Linked DNA regions of Homo sapiens: region 2 is linked to region 1. Evidence: fine-mapped expression QTL. Tissue or cell type: skeletal muscle. Region 1 holds a variant in brackets; the other region holds the start of a gene. All regions are shown on one strand. Distances are from middle to middle.

Region 1 (8,341 bases):
CCTGCTCCAGAGCCAAGAGAGAGGGCAAGTATGTCCCAACAAAGAGAAGGTGAGGCTTACAACAGTTGAGGATTTTTCCTAAAAAATCCCTTCTACCTAGGTTAGTTGAAACATTGTGATTTTGGAGAAAAGCTCTCATTTGTATAAGTTGTCTCTAGTTTACAAAATACTTTTAGATAATCTAATTTATTTATTTTGAGAAAAAAATAAAAAACTCTCTTGCCCAGGCTGGAGTTCAGTGGCACAATATAGCTCACTGCGGCTTCGATCTCCTGGGCCCAAGGGATCCTCCCACCTCAGCCTCCTGAGTAGCTGGGATTACAGGTGCACACCACCATGTCTGGCTAATGTTTTATTTTATTTTATTTTAATTTATTATACTTTAAGTTCTGGGATACATGTGCAGAATGTGCAGGTTTGTTACATAGGTGTACACGTGCCATGGTGGTTTACTGCATGCATCAACCCGTTATCTACATTAGATATTTCTCCTAATGCTATCCCTCCCCTAGCCCCCCACCCCCAACTGGCCCCGGTGTGTGATGTTCCCCTCCCTGTGTCCATGTTTTCTGCTTGTTCAACTCCCACTTATTAGTGAGAACATACGGTGTTTGGTTTTCTGTTTCTGTGTTTGCTGAGAATGATGGTTTCCAGCTTCATCCATGTCCCTACAAAGGACATGAACTCATCCTTTTTTATGGCTGCATAGTATTCCATGGTATATATGTGCCACATTTTCTTTATCCAGTCTATCATTGATGGGCATTATGGGTTGGTTCCAGTCTTTGCTATTGTGAATAGTACTGCAATAAACATACGTGTGCCTGTGTCTTTATAGTAGAATGATTTATAATCCTTTGGGTATATACACAGTAATGGGATTGCCGGGTCAAATGGTATTTCTGTTTCTAGATCCTTGAGGAATTGCCACACTGTCTTCCACAAATGGTTGAACTAATTTATATTCCCACCAACAGTGTAAAAGTGTTCCTATTTCTCCACATCCTCTCCAGCATCTGTTGTTTCCTGACTTTTTAATGATTGCCATTCTAACTGGTGTGAGATGGTATCTCATTGTGGTTTTGATTTGCATTTCTCTAATGACGAGTGATGATGAGCTTTTTTTCATATGTTTGTTGGCCACATAAATGTCTTCTTTTGAGAAGTGTCTGTTCGTATCCTTTGTCCACTTTTTGATGGGGTTGTTTGTTTTTTTTTCTTGTAAATTTGTTTGAGTTCTTTGTAGATTCTGGATATTAGCCCTTTGTCAGATGGGTAGATTGCAAAAAGTTTCCCCCATTCTGTAGGTTGCCTGTTCACTCTGATGATACTTTCTTTTGCTGTGTGGAAGCTCTTTAGTTTAATTGGATCCCATTTGTCAATTTTGGCTTTTGTTGCCATTGCTTTTGGTGTTTTAGTCATGAAGTCTTTGCCCATGCTTCTGTCCTGAATAGTATTGCCTAGGTTTTCCTCTAGGGTTTTTATGGTTTTAGGTCTTACATTTAAGTCTTTAATCCATCTTGAGTTAATTTTTGTATAACATATAAGGAAGGGGTCCGGTTTCAGTTTTCTGCATATGGCTTGTCTGGCTAATTTTTAAATTTTTTGTGGAGACAGGATTTCACCATCTTCCCCAGTCTGGTCTCCAATTCCTGGCCTCAAATGATCCTCCCGCCTCAGCTTCCCAAGGTGCTGGGATTACAGGTGTGAGCTACCATGTCCAACTCCAGATTATCTAATTGAATCTTCACTTCAGCCTTGCTACCTTGTGATTTAGTCAGCATCAAGCAATAGAAAACCTGACCCAATAAGGAAGGTAATACAATAAGGAAAGTTATAGACACATCTAAATCCAGAGGTGTAGTGATCTCAGGGTTTTTCCTATTTTATAACACTTTCTTTCCTCCTCCTCTATTTTTATTTGAGCCTCTTTTATCAGTGGTTTCAAACTTTTTTGAGTCATTATATAATGACCCAGTACACAGAAACACTACACACACCCACATATACCCCCTCTGAATTAAAAGTTTCACTAAACAATACTTATCCTTAGTAGAGTGTAATTCACTCTTCTAGTATAATCTATTGTATATCTTATCCTATCCTGTCCTATCTTATTCTACTTTTAAAATTCTGGAGAAATATTGGCTACCTTGATTTCATGACCCTTCCATGGATCTCAACCCTTAGCAAAGCTTCCAGGCTCAACCCTCAGCTGGCTCTTTGGGCCTTGGACTTGGCTAGTCTGCATTCCCTCAACCTCCCCATCCACTACCTGCAATGCAGTAAAGTTTCCAAGTCTTACGCTTCATCTCCTGGTGATTCTGGCTCCTGCTTTCCCCTGTGACAGTTAGTCAGACACACTGACATTTAGCTCACCACTATGCTAACCATTTTTGTTCTGCCCAATCCTCTCTGGCCTAAGCCACTGTGAAATAGACTGGTTAGATCTTGTTGGGTCCTCACAGGGCCTTTTGTCACATTTGAGCCTCTCTTGAGTTCTGACACCAATAAGTCATAAATGAAACAGAGAGAAATGATTATTTTCTAGAACAAAGATAAAAAAACTGGAGCATTACAAAAAGCCACTTCTTTACTTAGATTTCTTTATATTCAGATGCTGTTTCCTTTTTTATTTCCTTCTCTCTTTGTTACTCTGAATGAGGTGCTCAAGTAAGTGTTTGTCCTATTTAAATAGAGAACCTCATCACCATGCATGTTCAGTGTTGGCTTTGCCTGTAGAAGTGTAGATTTGTCCAGAATTTCTGCAGAAATACTGGGTACATGCAGGTTCACCAGCAACTCTCACCCCCTGAAATCAAGTCCAGTCTAGCTCTTCATAAGTACATAAATCATTTTAGGGAAGGTGAAAGTTCATCTGGTCCAATATTTCTCCTCTGTTTTGCTTTATCTTAATCCTGTTTCGCTATTTTTTTCACCACGCCCTTAATCTTTGCTGTCTCTAAAAGAAGCATAACTGCCTCTTCTTAACTTTCATAAACTCTGTTAGAAGCACTTTCTTCAATAACTTGTTCCATATGTTGCATACATGAGCTCCATCAAGATCCCCCTTCCCCCCACTGCTTCCTCAATTTTGCATGGCATCCATCAGTGTTTGAATCATTACAAGTAAAGGGGGAAAATACCCTCCAATGCCATCCCAATGGGACCTTTCTCTTTGGCATGTTCAGCATGTCCCATCATTTAGAAGGCTCTGTGTGGTTTTCTGGAAGTTTTTCTAACCCAGTGAGAAACAGCTGGTTTACCTTCACTGTCCTCTCCTTCTTTCCTTTGAAAGCTCCATATGGCTTGGGTGATGCCGCCTTGCCCTACTCAGGACAGCTTCCTGGGATGAAGGACAGCAAACACCTCTATCTTCCTTAGAAGGGTCCAACAAGAACTCTGAGTAGACCGAGGACACCTCTCTGGGTTTCCAGTCAATTTCCTCTGTAAACAAGCGCTCAGATTTTGGCCATTCTTAACTGTAGCTGATGATTTAAAAATATATATTTTTTCATTTTCTAAATAACTCCACTTATCTCCATTCTAGTTCTTTTTGTGATCTTTGCCCATATTTGACTGTTTCGTGAGACACATACTTAATAGCCAGGTCTCTGCTCCCAGACTAATTATTTCATTTCTCACTAATAATAATAATAATTACTTTTACTTTTCAGGTGGCTATATCTTTTCCTTGTGATGAGAGTGTTCCTTTCTGTGCACTAGCAGGCTTTATCATCCTTCACCTCTTTCTACATCTCTGAAACAGGAAAGGTAGCCACTCCCTTCTCCCCTCACTTGCTTTGGGGCCTTAGTGCCACAGGTGCTAGGAGCTCTCAGATGGTTTATAGGGCCTGGCAGGGCTGCAGTAATGGGGAATCACACTTCATTATTGCTGTTTTCTAAGTCCACCCTTTTTTAAATGGCTACCAGGACACTGTTTTAGAGTGTTTTCCATGCCTCCCAGGCACAGAACCCCTGTGGATGTGGCCAGCCTATAGAGGCTGTGCAAAGGCTCATAAGAAAAAAACTGATACCTGGTGAATATTTTGTTACAGCACTAATTTCTTCCTTTTTTTCCCTCTTCCCAATCTTATAAATATGTCACTGGAGAAATGTCTATTCAAGTTCTTAGCCCAGTTTTTTTTTCAAAAGAACCAATATTTTTAAAATAAGTGTACTACACAAACCAATCTATAAATTCAATGCAATTATCAAATTACCAATGTGTTTTTTTCACAGAATTAGAAAAAAACAGTGCTAGAATTTATATAAAACCAAGTATGTGTGTAATAACCAAAGCAATTCTAAGCAAAAAGAACAAATCAGGTTACTTTAAAAAAAAAATTCAGTTGTAGAGGGTTCTGAGGTATTCTGGAGTTTAACCCTGTATCAGATGTATGGTTTGCAAGTATTCTCTCTCATTCCATAGGTTGCCTTTTCACTCTCTTACTTGTCTCCTTTGCTGTTCAGAAGCTTTTTAGTTTGATGTAATTGACTTATTTTTGTTTTCATTGCCTGTGCTTTTGGTGCCATATTCATGAAATCATTGACTTCTTCCTTATGTTTTCTTCTAGGAGTTTTTATAATTTCAGGTCATAAATTTAAGTCTCTGACCCACATTGAGTTGATTTTTGTGTATGATAGAGGATAATGGTCTAATCTCTAAAGGAGACACACAAATGGCCAAGTATATTAAAAATGCTCAATGTCACTAATCATCAGGGTAGTGCAAACCAAAACCACAATGAAATATTATCTCATACCTGTTAGGGTAGCTATTATCAAAAAACAAAACAAAAGACTACATCTGTTGGTGAGGATGTGGACAAATTGGAAATCTTGTACACTGTAGGTGGGAATGCAAAATGGTGTAGCTGCTAAGAGAAAGTGTGGAGGTTCCTCAAAAACTAAAAACTAGAACTACCATATGATCCAGCAATCCCACTTCTGGGTGTTTATCCAAAACAGTTGAAATGAGAATCTTGAAG[A/C]GATAGTAGCACTCCAGTGTTTATTGCAGCAAAAAAGGTGGAAACAAACTTAGTGTCCATTGAGAGACGGATGAAGAAAATGTATATATATACAGTGGGATACTACTCAGCCTTAATAAAGAAGGAAATTCTGCACTATATGACCACATAGATGAACCTTGAGTACATAATGCTAAGTACAATAATGAGCCAGTCACAGAAGATTCCACTTGTATGAGATATCTAAAATAGTCAAATTCAAAGAATCAAAGAGTAGTACGGTAATTACTAGGGGCTGGGGGAAGAGGGAAATGAGGATTACTAATCACTGGGCATAAAAGTTTAGTTAACAAGACAAATGAGTTCTCAGATCTGTTGTACAACATTGTACCTATAGTCAACAATAATGTATTGTACACTTAATTCATTTTAAGACAATAAAATACATTTAAAAAAGAGATGTCATTGGGTTTGCTCCACAGGTCCCAGTGCCTGTATCTTTTCAAACACTGGCCCCATGCTCTTAGATGTACCTCCACTGTTGCTGGAGGTACGCCTAAGCTGATGGGGTCACAATGGATTCATCTGGCCCCATGGTGCATTGTTTAAGGGAGGGTCTTCTGTTTGGCCTCATAGTGTAGTATTGAACTAAATAACCTCTGATGCCATACTGCCTGGATAAAATATCCCAACTCTGCCACTTATTCACTGTGGATCTTGGGGAGGATGCTTAATCTTTTTGCATCTCAGTTTTCCTCATCTGTGAAATGGAACTGATAACACCACTCTCCTGAGAATTAGATAAATTAATGCACAGGAGCGCTTAGAAGCATGCCTGCCTCATCGTAAGCACCCAACAAATATTGGCTGTTATTTGGTACTTTCGTGTTCCAGCTCCATTCTCCAACCCCCCACCCCACTTCTAATAACATTTCCACGAATGGACAATTAGGAGAATTCTATTAGGTCTTGGTCTTCTATTAGTAGTTCTATTGATCCTTGAGATTGTGTCATTTTAAAAAAATCTCTGGTTTTATTTTGCCAACTTCTGAAATCTGTGCAAAGTATGGATGTAGGATTTTTGCATTTGGAACTCCTCCAGGGGCCCAGGGACCCATGGTAGGGAAAATAAAAGAGGTCTTCAGAGATGTCTTGTGTCTCCAGAGAAACAGCAGTATTACTTCACCGGTTGACTTAATGGAATCAGTCGGAATCAGCCCCAAGCAACTTTCCCTGCCTAATTACCCCATCACCTGTTCAAATACAGCCATTACTTTGGTATTTATTAATTGTGTTGTGATCAGCTTTTAAGGTATGTCTTTTCCTTTTTTTTTCTTTCAGCTTAGCCAGAATCACATTTTAGGGCAACCAGATTTTAATGATATTGACAGGTACTATAGCTTGACTTTCTAAGCTCTTTCCATACAAACTTAATTTTTGGTTTTGGTAAGTTTGCGAAATGGATAGCCAGTTTCTAACTCTTGTATGTTTCCCTGGGTGAACTGTCATTTTTATTTTTTGTCAAGTGAGCTACAGGTAAAGCTTGTGATCATAGCAAAACATGTTTAATACTTTTGATGGAATTGAACACAAAGTTAACTGAATCTTTCACTAAACTGGCAAGTTAATTGAATGAAATGATTAGTTTGTTAGTTTCTTTGGTCAACTTTGCTGGAATAGTTGGTTGATCTGTTATCATAGAGCCTAGAACAGTTTCACTTCTCCTAGTCCCATGCGAAGTATTCACTGACTGTGCTTCTTTCCCAAGCAGTACTTGTGTCAAAACACTGCTACCTGAGATATTTTCAGAGACCTTTACATGGACTGTTTTTGCAACTCTTATTCCATGGGTGAGTCAGTGCAGCAACAGGTCTGTATGGACTCCCAGCAGGTTGTTTCTCTGCCCGGAATCACTTGCCAGATGATTTTAATGTTGAAGGGCAAAACTTAGCATTGGTTTGTGGCCCTTTTTAAAAACTCAACAAGCAGAACAAATACCAATTCTATAGGGACTTGGGGGCAAGAGAAGTCTCAGAAGCTGGCCCATTTCTCAGTTTGGGTCTGCTAGTGAGGCAGGGCTTAAGGTTAACTCAGTCCTTATAGGTACAGGACTGTCTCTTAGTTTTACAGTCTTCAACATTTTATTAACTTCCAGGCAGTAATAATAACTACCATATAACCCTTACTGCAGGTAGGCACTACTTGAAGTACTTTAGATGTATTACTCAATTTAATGTTCTCAACAGCCCTATGAGGTAGGCTCTGTTAATTATCCCACTTTACAGATGAGGAAACAAAGTGCCTCAGAGAAATGAGGTTTTTGCCTGAGGTCCCATAGCAAGTAAGTGGCAGTATATAAGGTTTCAGAGCAAGTGTGGACAGAGCCAGGATTTAAACCTAGGCAGCCTGGCTCTGGAGTCATAACTGCTATACTGTACTGAGGGACTGCCTTAAATCATGCTGAAACCAGAGTGGAAATGGATTTCTTTACAATGACGGGTATAATAACTATGATAATAAATATTGGTTATTTTCTCTGATCACTGTCTCCCAGTGAATGAATCTACTGGAAAGTCCAAATCATTGATTAATTGTTGCTAGCTGAGAATACAACCTGAACAAAGACAGTAACAAATATTCATTGGATTGGAGGGGTAAGGAAACAGGGGACATCATTACTTTTTCTGGGCTCCAGGTCACACGGCCTCAGCCTGATTTTTCAGAGGCACATCAGAACTTGGAGCTGAGGAGTGAGGACCAAGTCTTGCCCCATGAAGTCTCAGGTCCGTGCCAAGAGTCTGGGGCACCATTACTAGCCCCACCCTGGGCAACAAGCCACGAGGGAGCCAAGGCGAGAAGCCAAGAGAATCGAGAAGCATGTGTGATGAGGAGACTTCAAGCTGGCCCTGGGGAGGCATCTGGAGGAATTTCCTGAGCTGGAGTCCAGAATTTGCCATAGGTTTTTACGTGTGCCTCTGGTGTGGGATCCTTGGGATAGTTAAAGGGGCTACATAGGAGGAGACTTGTTTCTAGGACGCTGAGGAAGCTGGATGGATTACCCTGTCTCCTTCCAGGGCTGTGTCTAGAACTCTGACAGCGGTCGCAGAATCAGACACCTTCTGTCCTGGGTGGATCATAGTCACAATTATAACATTCCTTAATCTCAAATTCCTTAAAAAAATCTTTTTATTTTGAAATAGCCATAGATTCACAGCGGGCTGCCAGAATGGTTCAGAAAGGTGCTGTACACCCTTAATTCATTTCCGCCAGTGGTCACATCTTGCCTAACTAGAGTACAATATCAAGCCAGGAAATCGACATTGGTGCAATCCACAGATCTTTTGCAGATTTCACCAGTTTTACATGCACTT
Region 2 (8,341 bases), 23 kb before region 1:
CATATAAGTAGTGGGAGAAAAGGCTTGGAATTGAATCTAGGGCAGTCCGTGCACTTAATACTATACAAGATTAACTTTCTTTAGCGTTTGTATGAAGTAGATGCTGTACATCAACTTTATAACTTCATTAAATTATTTGTTTTAGAAGACAAGTTTTTTAGTCAAACTCTCTAATTTCAGAAATGTATTTACTCTGACAATTTTTAACATAGGCCTTCTTCATTACATCTTGGAGTAAAATAATTTAACCTGATATAAGAAAAGCAAGAGACGGCTGCCTACTACCTAATGGTTGATTCTGTCTCCAGGCTTAGCCTCTTCAGTTGTACTGTAACTTTTACCCTTAATGTCTTTCACTGTATACTGGTTTCTTCCTTTGACTTAGAGGTATGCTCAAGGCTTGCTTCTTCAAAGAGACACTTCAAAAAACCCCTGTCTTGAAGCTGCCACCCTTTCTTACTCACTACTGAAGAATAGTCTATATCCACGATTTCTACTTCCTTACAAGTAGACTAGATTTAGAATCAGTTGGGTGCTAATCCTAGGCGGGGGTTTCTCAGCCTTGGAATTATGGACATTTTGGGTCAGATAATTCTCTGGGGTGTGTATGTGGGGGCAGGAGACTGTTGTATATTGCAGGACATTTTACAGCATCTACCCACTAGATGCTATTAAATAATAGCACACCCTTCCCCAGGTGCGACAATAAAAAATGTCTCCAGACATTGCCAAATGCCCCTTGGGTGGCAAAATCATCACCAGTCTAGAGATACCGACTTAGTTTAAATTATTTAATCTCTCTGAAACTCAAATATTTTATCTATAAAAATGATATCTAGATGACTATTTAAAATTTCTTTCAGGTATAATATTCTACTTCTGGCCTCTAATCCCTCAACTATAGTGAAACTCTTCTCTCGAAGGTTTCCACTGCCCAAATCACTACAATCTAATGGTGGTTCTCAGTTCCAATCCTCTTTAATCTTTCAGAAGCATCTGACACTGTTGGGTACCAATTCCTTATATTTCTTTTTCGATAAGAGGTTGCTAAGATGTCCTCTTAAAATTCTCTCCTTTGGCTTTCAGGACATACTTTCCGGGTTCTCCTCCCTCATGCAATTTCACAATTTCAAGAATCAGATACATCCAAACTCCACCAACCTAATCAGTACTGTTACAGATCCAAATTACCAGCTTACATAAGATTCTGGTCTGTTCTTAGATCACACAATTTCAAAATGCCTACACTTGCCTATGCTTTGCTATAGTAATAACAATAAAGTCAACATTTCATTGAGAACTCATAATTTTAAAGGACTGTATAAGACTCTTTTTGGTCTTTTGATGTGACAATAATCTCAATCAAATGTTAATAAGCTTTTACTGGTTCCCTTTCTGACTCTGTTTCTGACATTCTAATCTTTTAAAGATATAGTTTCTGCTGAAAATAAAACATATATTTAAGATAAAATATAAACACTTAAACCTATAATTAAATGTGAGAGGTATTATATAGAAAGCTTAAATCTAGATCTACTATGTCCTTGTGATTTAGCAATATGACTTTAGGCAAGTAACTAAGCATTGATTTGGTCAATGAAATGGGGATAACAGTATTCACGCATGGGATTGTGAAGATTAAATGAAATAACATATACAAAGCACTTAGCATACAGAAAGAGCTCAATAAATGTTGGCTGTTATTATAGTTATCATCTAGAAAGCTATATTATCTTTAAATATTCCCATCTGTATCATCCTGAACCACTTTATTCCTATTGCAGTTCTTCTCAACCCACATCAGTCTTTTTTAATTTTTTTACTAATCACATATTTCTTTTTATCATTTTGAACACTTCAACAAATTGCATGTTTTGACCTCTTACATTAGCAGTTGTTCCTGGTATCCAGATGTAGCATGGTCATTTATAGTATTATTTGCATTTATAGTATCATTTTAAGAGGTAATATTAGTATTTTAACTCTTATAAGAGATACAGGTTACACTGCTATACAATTAGTAGGTAATCTCCTGTCAATAAATTCAAACATAAATTGCTTCCTAGCTTTTAAGTATAAATTTTGGCTCAAGGAAAAATTTTAATATATAACATTATAAACCAGGTTGGGACTATATTTGGTATAAGGTTTAGGCCCTTTGTTGCTGTTTTTTGTACAATTTACAACTACATTGCCAGATGAAAAGTTTTAATATAAATGACAACAGTACTGTTTCACTAAGGCTTTTATGTTACTTAGTACTAAAAAAATCTAATGTATTAAGGTGGGCTGAGGTACTAGAAATATTATGGATGAATTTTAGTAGAGCAAGAACAGGCATGACACAACCCATGGTTGGAGAAGATCCACATAAATAGTCCTTTCCATTTTGAGCAGCTGGCTTCAATACATCCTGCCCCTCCGCATGCTAGTTCTCCTAAGATGAACAGCTCTGAAAAGCTCCTTGATAGACTAGTTCTATCCCCTAGAAGGACAAACGAAAAGTACTAAAGAAATTGCAAAGCAACACTGTTGTGGGATAGGGATGGTAGATGCGCTAATAGATACATAAGGAATTCCAGTACACAAGATAATAAAAGTTAATGAGAGTGATATTTACAACATCCAGCCAAATGAGTGTTAGCCCATTCATAGTAATTATAGTTGTTTCTAATTTTTGTTTTAAAATGCTGCTCAGAACTCAACTAATTTTTAGAAATTTTGTTTATGTACTCCTTTAGAATTTTTTCGATGCTTTTATCTTCGCAGAGTGAATTTTTATAAATAAATGTCACTGACTGGGCACGGTGGCTCATGCCTGTAATCCCAGCACTTTGGGAGGCCGAGGTGGGTGGATCACGAGGTCAGGAGATCGAGACCATCCTGGCTAACACGGTGAAACCCCGTTTCTACCAGAAATACAAAAAATTAGCCAGGCGTGGTGGCGGGCGCCTGTAGTCTCAGCTACTCGGGAGGCTGAGGCAGGGGAATGGGAGGCGGAGCTTGCAGTGAGCTGAGGTGGGCCACTGCACTCCAGCCTGGGCGACAGAGCGAAACTCAAAAATAAATAAATAAGTAAATAAAATAAATAAATATCACTGGAGGTAAGCCAGGTGAACTGGATAGTAACAGAGTTGGATAATACTTTGGGAAATCACACATACACACACCAAAAAACCAAAACCAAACCAAAGATGCAGCAAAAAAATTAACGGAGATGACGTTCTTAGATTGATCCAAAGTTGCCTCCGTGTAATTTCACAAGCGTTTCCAAAATATTCTAGGCAAGAGGCAATTTCCAAAAGATTCTAGCAAGAGTTACTGAAGGTCAATATTCTTATGCAAACATTTTGTTTTTTTTTTTTGAGGGGTTGTGGGGGAAATGAGGAAGTGAAGGAAATCCTATTATTTAATAATTACATGGAGGAAAAACGACTGGTAAATTTGAAAGGTAGTTTTTAGATAAAAAACCAAAATACCTTAAGAAATGTCCTTAAATTTCCATATGTATGTCTGGCACCCTTAACTAGGGGGCCATGGAGAGAAGGAAGGTAGACGGTTTAATGTTCACAATAATTAACCCTTTTGTAATGAATTTAATCTCATCTTAACTCCCTGAGTTAAAAAAATAAAACAAACTGAGTCAGGTGCGATGGCTCGCAACTGTAATCCTAGCAGTTAGGGGAGGCAGAGGCGGGAGGACAGCTTGAACTCAGGAGTTCAAGACCAGCCTGGCCAACACAGTGAGACTGTCTCTACAAAAAATACAAATTAACCGGGCTCGTGCCTGTAATCCCAGTTTACGTAATCCCAGATTACAGGCTCGTGCCTGTAATCCCAGCTAGGGTAGGCCGAGGTGGGAGGATCTTTGAACCCGGGAGTTGGAGGCTGCAGTGAGCTACGATCGTGCCACTGCACTCCAACCTGGGCGACAGAGCGAGACTCCATCTCAAAAAACAAACAAAACAACAAAACTGAGCTAAAGACAAATAGGATTGACCTGGGGAGTGGGGTCTGAGGCAATGGGATGAGGCTGTCTAACAGGGCACCTCACAGGGAGATGAGAACCGCTTGGCCACACAGAGGCAAAATGCGGCCGAGGTCAGCACAGCCCTCTCGGGGTTAAGAACGGGGCGCCTGAGGGGTATCCCGGTCCCCGACTAGAACCTCCTACGCGCTGGCAGCCAGAAACAGGATGAAGGAGACTGGCGCGGACTGCGGGCTCTGCGGGCGGGGCGGGGCGGGGCGGGGCGGGGCGGGGCGGGGCGGGGGCCAGCCCTCTGGGGCATGCCGGGGGGCGGAGTCTGCGCTGAGTGAAGAGGTGCCAGAATCCGCGAAGAGGGTCGACGAATGCGCTGCCGCGGAGGGTAGGGCGCTGAGGGTCTGAACCCTGATGCAAGGAGGGGCTGGAGGTCGCGGGCACGTTTCTTTTGGGTTGGGCGGCGGAGGGGCAGCTCTAGGGCCTGGAGCAGGGCTTTACCAGAACAGTCCACCCCTCCCGCCCGGTTAACCTGAGCGTCTCTTTCGCCTTGGCTTGGTTCCGGTCGCTACTGTGGGTGCCGCCGCCGCAGCCTTTGGGCTGCTCGACCATACCCCGTCTTAGAAGGTCAGGTGTGCAAAACTTGGACTCGACTTCATCCAAGAGCTCGTCCAGGTCCTCCGCCATCTTGAATCGCCTGGCCTTTTCCCCTCCAATCGCCAAGGCTCCGGTGGTTTCCAGGAGTAACGAGGGGACCTGGCGGGCTCCTGCCCCGTTAGGCGTCCCCGCGCATGCGCACCGCTTCCCGTGGCAACCCGGCGCCCACGAGGGCTCGCGGCAGAGAACGCGGTGGGTTCGTGAGGGGCGGGCGTATGCAGGGACAGAGTTCGGAGCTGTCTCTGCAGTGTGTCTGTGTGACTCGCGATGCTTTGCGTTTCTTCCTTTCAGCATGTCTGGCGTGGTTCCTCCCGTCTCCCCCTCCCGGGCCCACGTTGTAACCACAAGCACGCATTCTCGCCCCTTCATTCTCTCCTCTCCCGTTTGGGTCCCTGTTGTGTTTCAGCCGTTTGTAAATTCCTGAAATCTGTGGAAGGTTTGAGCAGAACGCTCTAAAACACAAAAAGTAAGTGTTGACGGCAAAAAGCTGACATTCCCGTAGTCGGCAGGATTCGAACCTGCGCGGGGAGACCCCAATGGATTTCTAGTCCATCGCCTTAACCACTCGGCCACGACTACTGGCTGTGTGAATTTTTGCGGTGAGAGTGCATGTAGACTCTGCATAAGCGTCTGCTGCAGCAATAGGCACGTTTTGATGTGGAGGAAACCATTACTGAGCTGTTCTGTTAAGAGCATATTTGAATGTTACCTCGCTCATCATTTTACAGTTTGTAAAAGTCTTAGAACGTATCCCGTCCAACTCTTTGTTGGAAAAAACGGAAATTCTAATTAAATCCGAGAGAGAGAGAGAGAGAGACAGAGAGAGAGATGCGTGCTCAAAACTATTGCACACCCACTTGCTTGCACAATGTTGGAGCCATTTCCAGGAGAGAACCAGGAACCGGGTAGGGGCCAACCAGCTTCCCGACTTCCTTGTGGGGCTGCCAGTTCCACTCCTTCGCCTTTCTCTTTGACAAACGGCTCCCAGGACTATCTTTTCACCCATTATACATTAAAAAGCTATTACCCAGCGATTTAAATTCACTCTGCAGGGTCAGACAGTCCCACCGTGCCATAAAAGCACTACTTTGAAAAGTGTAAAGCGTGATACAAGTGTAAGGTATTGTAAATGGCATTCTTAATAAATACTGTGCATAGTTTAACCTGTGTTTTGGGTATTTCTAAAGTGGGGTAGCAAAGAGGTTGGCACCCTTGGGAACTCTGGAGATAGTTTGATCCAGATGATTTGTTTGTTCAAAGTATCTTTTAAGGTCCCTGAAGAGCAACATGTAGTGGTGTGCTGGAGCCAATGGGACATGCTCACTCCTACCCAGTGATAAATTTTCAAGGATTTTGGGAGCTAGTTGTTAAATGCAATTATTATTAAATATTAAATTATGCAAACTTGCAATTACATTATGTTAAAAGCAAATATGATACTCAAAATTCATATGCTAGTGATTCCACTACCTTTTACTATTATTTATAAATATAATTGAGATTGTTTACATCTGAAAGACTTTCTCTCTTTAACTTTCCATTCAGTGATGTCACTTGGGAAGCTTGAAATGAGCCATAGTGGGTGTTATTTACATGAGGGAAATTGCAAATGTGACAAAGCAGGGCTTTTTATCCCTAGGAGATGAAAGATACTTTGAACAAACAAATCATCTAGATCAAACTGTCATTTAGTAGAACACCCCATGTTACCATCAGACCAACTGTGAATATTCTCAGCAAGGCAACACTCCCCTTTTCTGCAGGGCTGCTCTATTTATTGTCTCTGAATCTTTGTTTTAGCTATTAGAATCCTGGCCTAAACACACACACACACACACACACACACACACACACAAATATGCATATAAACATATATGTATATTTACACACACAGGGGAAACTAGCATTTTTATGCAAAATACTTAACATTGAGCACTGACCACTCAGATCAGACACTGTCAGGATGCTTAAGTAGTATCCTAGAGGCACCCTGACATGTATTACCCTTGTAGTCAGAGTAGAGAACTCTAGAGGGTGGGGAGACAATGTTGGGGCAAGGAGGGGACTCGGACACTAGTTATTTGTCTAGAATCCTGGCATATTCTATGATTTCCAACTAATTAATTTTTTAAAGTTTTTTTCCAAGTTGCCTTGCTGGGCGATTTTACCTAGAACCGGTCTCTAGCAGAAAGGCAAGGAAAAGCTGCTTGAAAAAGCGGTCCTTGCAACATGGTTCCAGGGGAAGTCATAGTTAGTGGCCATCCAGTTTAACAGGCTTACATTAATGATTTGATTTTGCTCTTGAGAAGATGAAATCTGAGGGGATCTGTACCAATGTTGAAAGTATCTGTTAGCGGCCGGGCGCGGTGGCTCACGCCTGTAATCCCAGCACTTTGGGAGGCCGAGGCGGGCGGATCACGAGGTCAGGAGATGGAGACCATCCTGGCTAACACGGTGAAACCCCGTCTTTACTAAAAATACAAAAAATTAGCTGAGCGTGGTGGCGGGCGCCTGTACTGGCAGCTACTCGGGAGGTTGAGGCAGGAGAATGGCGTGAACCCGGGAGGCGGAGCTTGCAGTGAGCCAAGATCGCGCCACAGCACTCCAGCTTGGGCCACAGAGCGAGACTCCGTCTCAAAAAAAAAAAAAAAAAAAAAAAAGAATCTATTAGCGTGTAGAAGATTTGCAATGAGAGATGGTGAAAAAATAAAAGAGAAAATGTTTCTGGTTTTCTGTGTTTTGTTTTTTGTGTATATTAGAAAAAAATTAGTGTGTTCCCTCGCTCCCTCACTTCTACTCCCATTTTTCTGGTCTTTTGATTGGATAATTTATTCCGTTTACATTTTAAAATTTCATTTTATTGATTTTATTTACTTTCAGTAGCTTTTGGGGTACAAGCGGTTTTTGGTTACATGGATGAATTGTATAGTGGTGAAGTCTGAAATTTTAGTGCACCTGTCACCCGAGTAGTGTACATTATACCCAAAAGGTAGTGTTCTTTTTTTTTTTTTTTTTTTCCCAGACGGAGTTTTGCTCTTGCTGCCCAGGCTGGAGTGTGCAATGGTTTGATCTCTGCTCACCACAACCTCTGCTTCCTGGGTTCAAGTGATTCTCCTGCCTCAGCCTCCCAAGTAGCTGGGATTACAGGCATGTGCCACCATGCCGGGCTAATTTTGTATTTTTAGTAGAGACAGGGTTTCTCCATGCTGTTCAGGCTGGTCTCGAACTCCTGACCTCAGGTGATCCGCCCGCCTCAGCCTCCCAAAGTGCTGGGATTACAGGCGTGAGCCATCACACCCAGCCTCCAATAGATAGTGTTACTATCCTTTACCCCTCACCCGTCCTCCTCTCTTCTGAGTCTCCAGTGTCCATTATGCCACTCTGTATGCCTTTGTGTACCCATAAATTAACTCCTACTTACGAGTGAGAACATATGATACTTGGTTTTCCATTCCTGCCCACTCCCATTTTAATAAAATGGATGTATGGATCATCCAGAGTTTGGTATTTTGAGAATTTCATTTATGGCTCATTCAACTCTCCGGTGGGTCTCCTGACTTGAGTCATGTTCTCTTTCTGGTTTGCCACCGAGAGTGAAAGGTTGAGTTCAGAGTCTACAAGGAGAAATGCCATATGTCACATAAGAGTAACATATGTGTATGGCTGTGTGATAAACTGTAAAATTACAGTGCACTATTAAAATCT

Which allele goes with the higher level. Positions count from the first base shown, and alleles are read on the strand shown. Sizes are in standard deviations (SD) of each study's normalised expression.
For the expression in skeletal muscle of the gene that starts at base 4,678 in region 2, C is the low allele of the variant in region 1 and A is the other (small effect, 0.24 SD a copy in GTEx).

Evidence for each region. PIP is the estimated chance that this variant, and not a neighbour inherited with it, causes the effect.
Region 2: CFAP418 starts here. The variant in region 1 is fine-mapped to the expression of CFAP418 in skeletal muscle (GTEx, PIP 0.91).

The regions. Positions count from the first base shown.
Region 1 is chr8:95,287,032-95,295,372 of GRCh38, forward strand. All of the region lies in intron 1 of CFAP418-AS1 (CFAP418 antisense RNA 1), which reads left to right. Among named protein-coding and RNA genes, the nearest start is that of TRS-AGA2-5, 21 kb to the left of the region's middle. The variant A/C (reference allele first, on the strand shown) is at 4,992.
Region 2 is chr8:95,264,524-95,272,864 of GRCh38, forward strand. CFAP418 (cilia and flagella associated protein 418) reads right to left here and starts at 4,678. Exons shown (of 6, transcript NM_177965.4): 1 at 4,512-4,678. The coding sequence starts at 4,666. It overlaps CFAP418-AS1 (CFAP418 antisense RNA 1), which reads left to right and starts at 4,313. Exons shown (of 4, transcript NR_038209.1): 1 at 4,313-4,367. TRS-AGA2-5 (tRNA-Ser (anticodon AGA) 2-5) reads right to left here and starts at 5,215; the gene lies at 5,134-5,215. RefSeq lists enhancers at 4,270-4,709, 4,664-5,303, 5,340-5,419.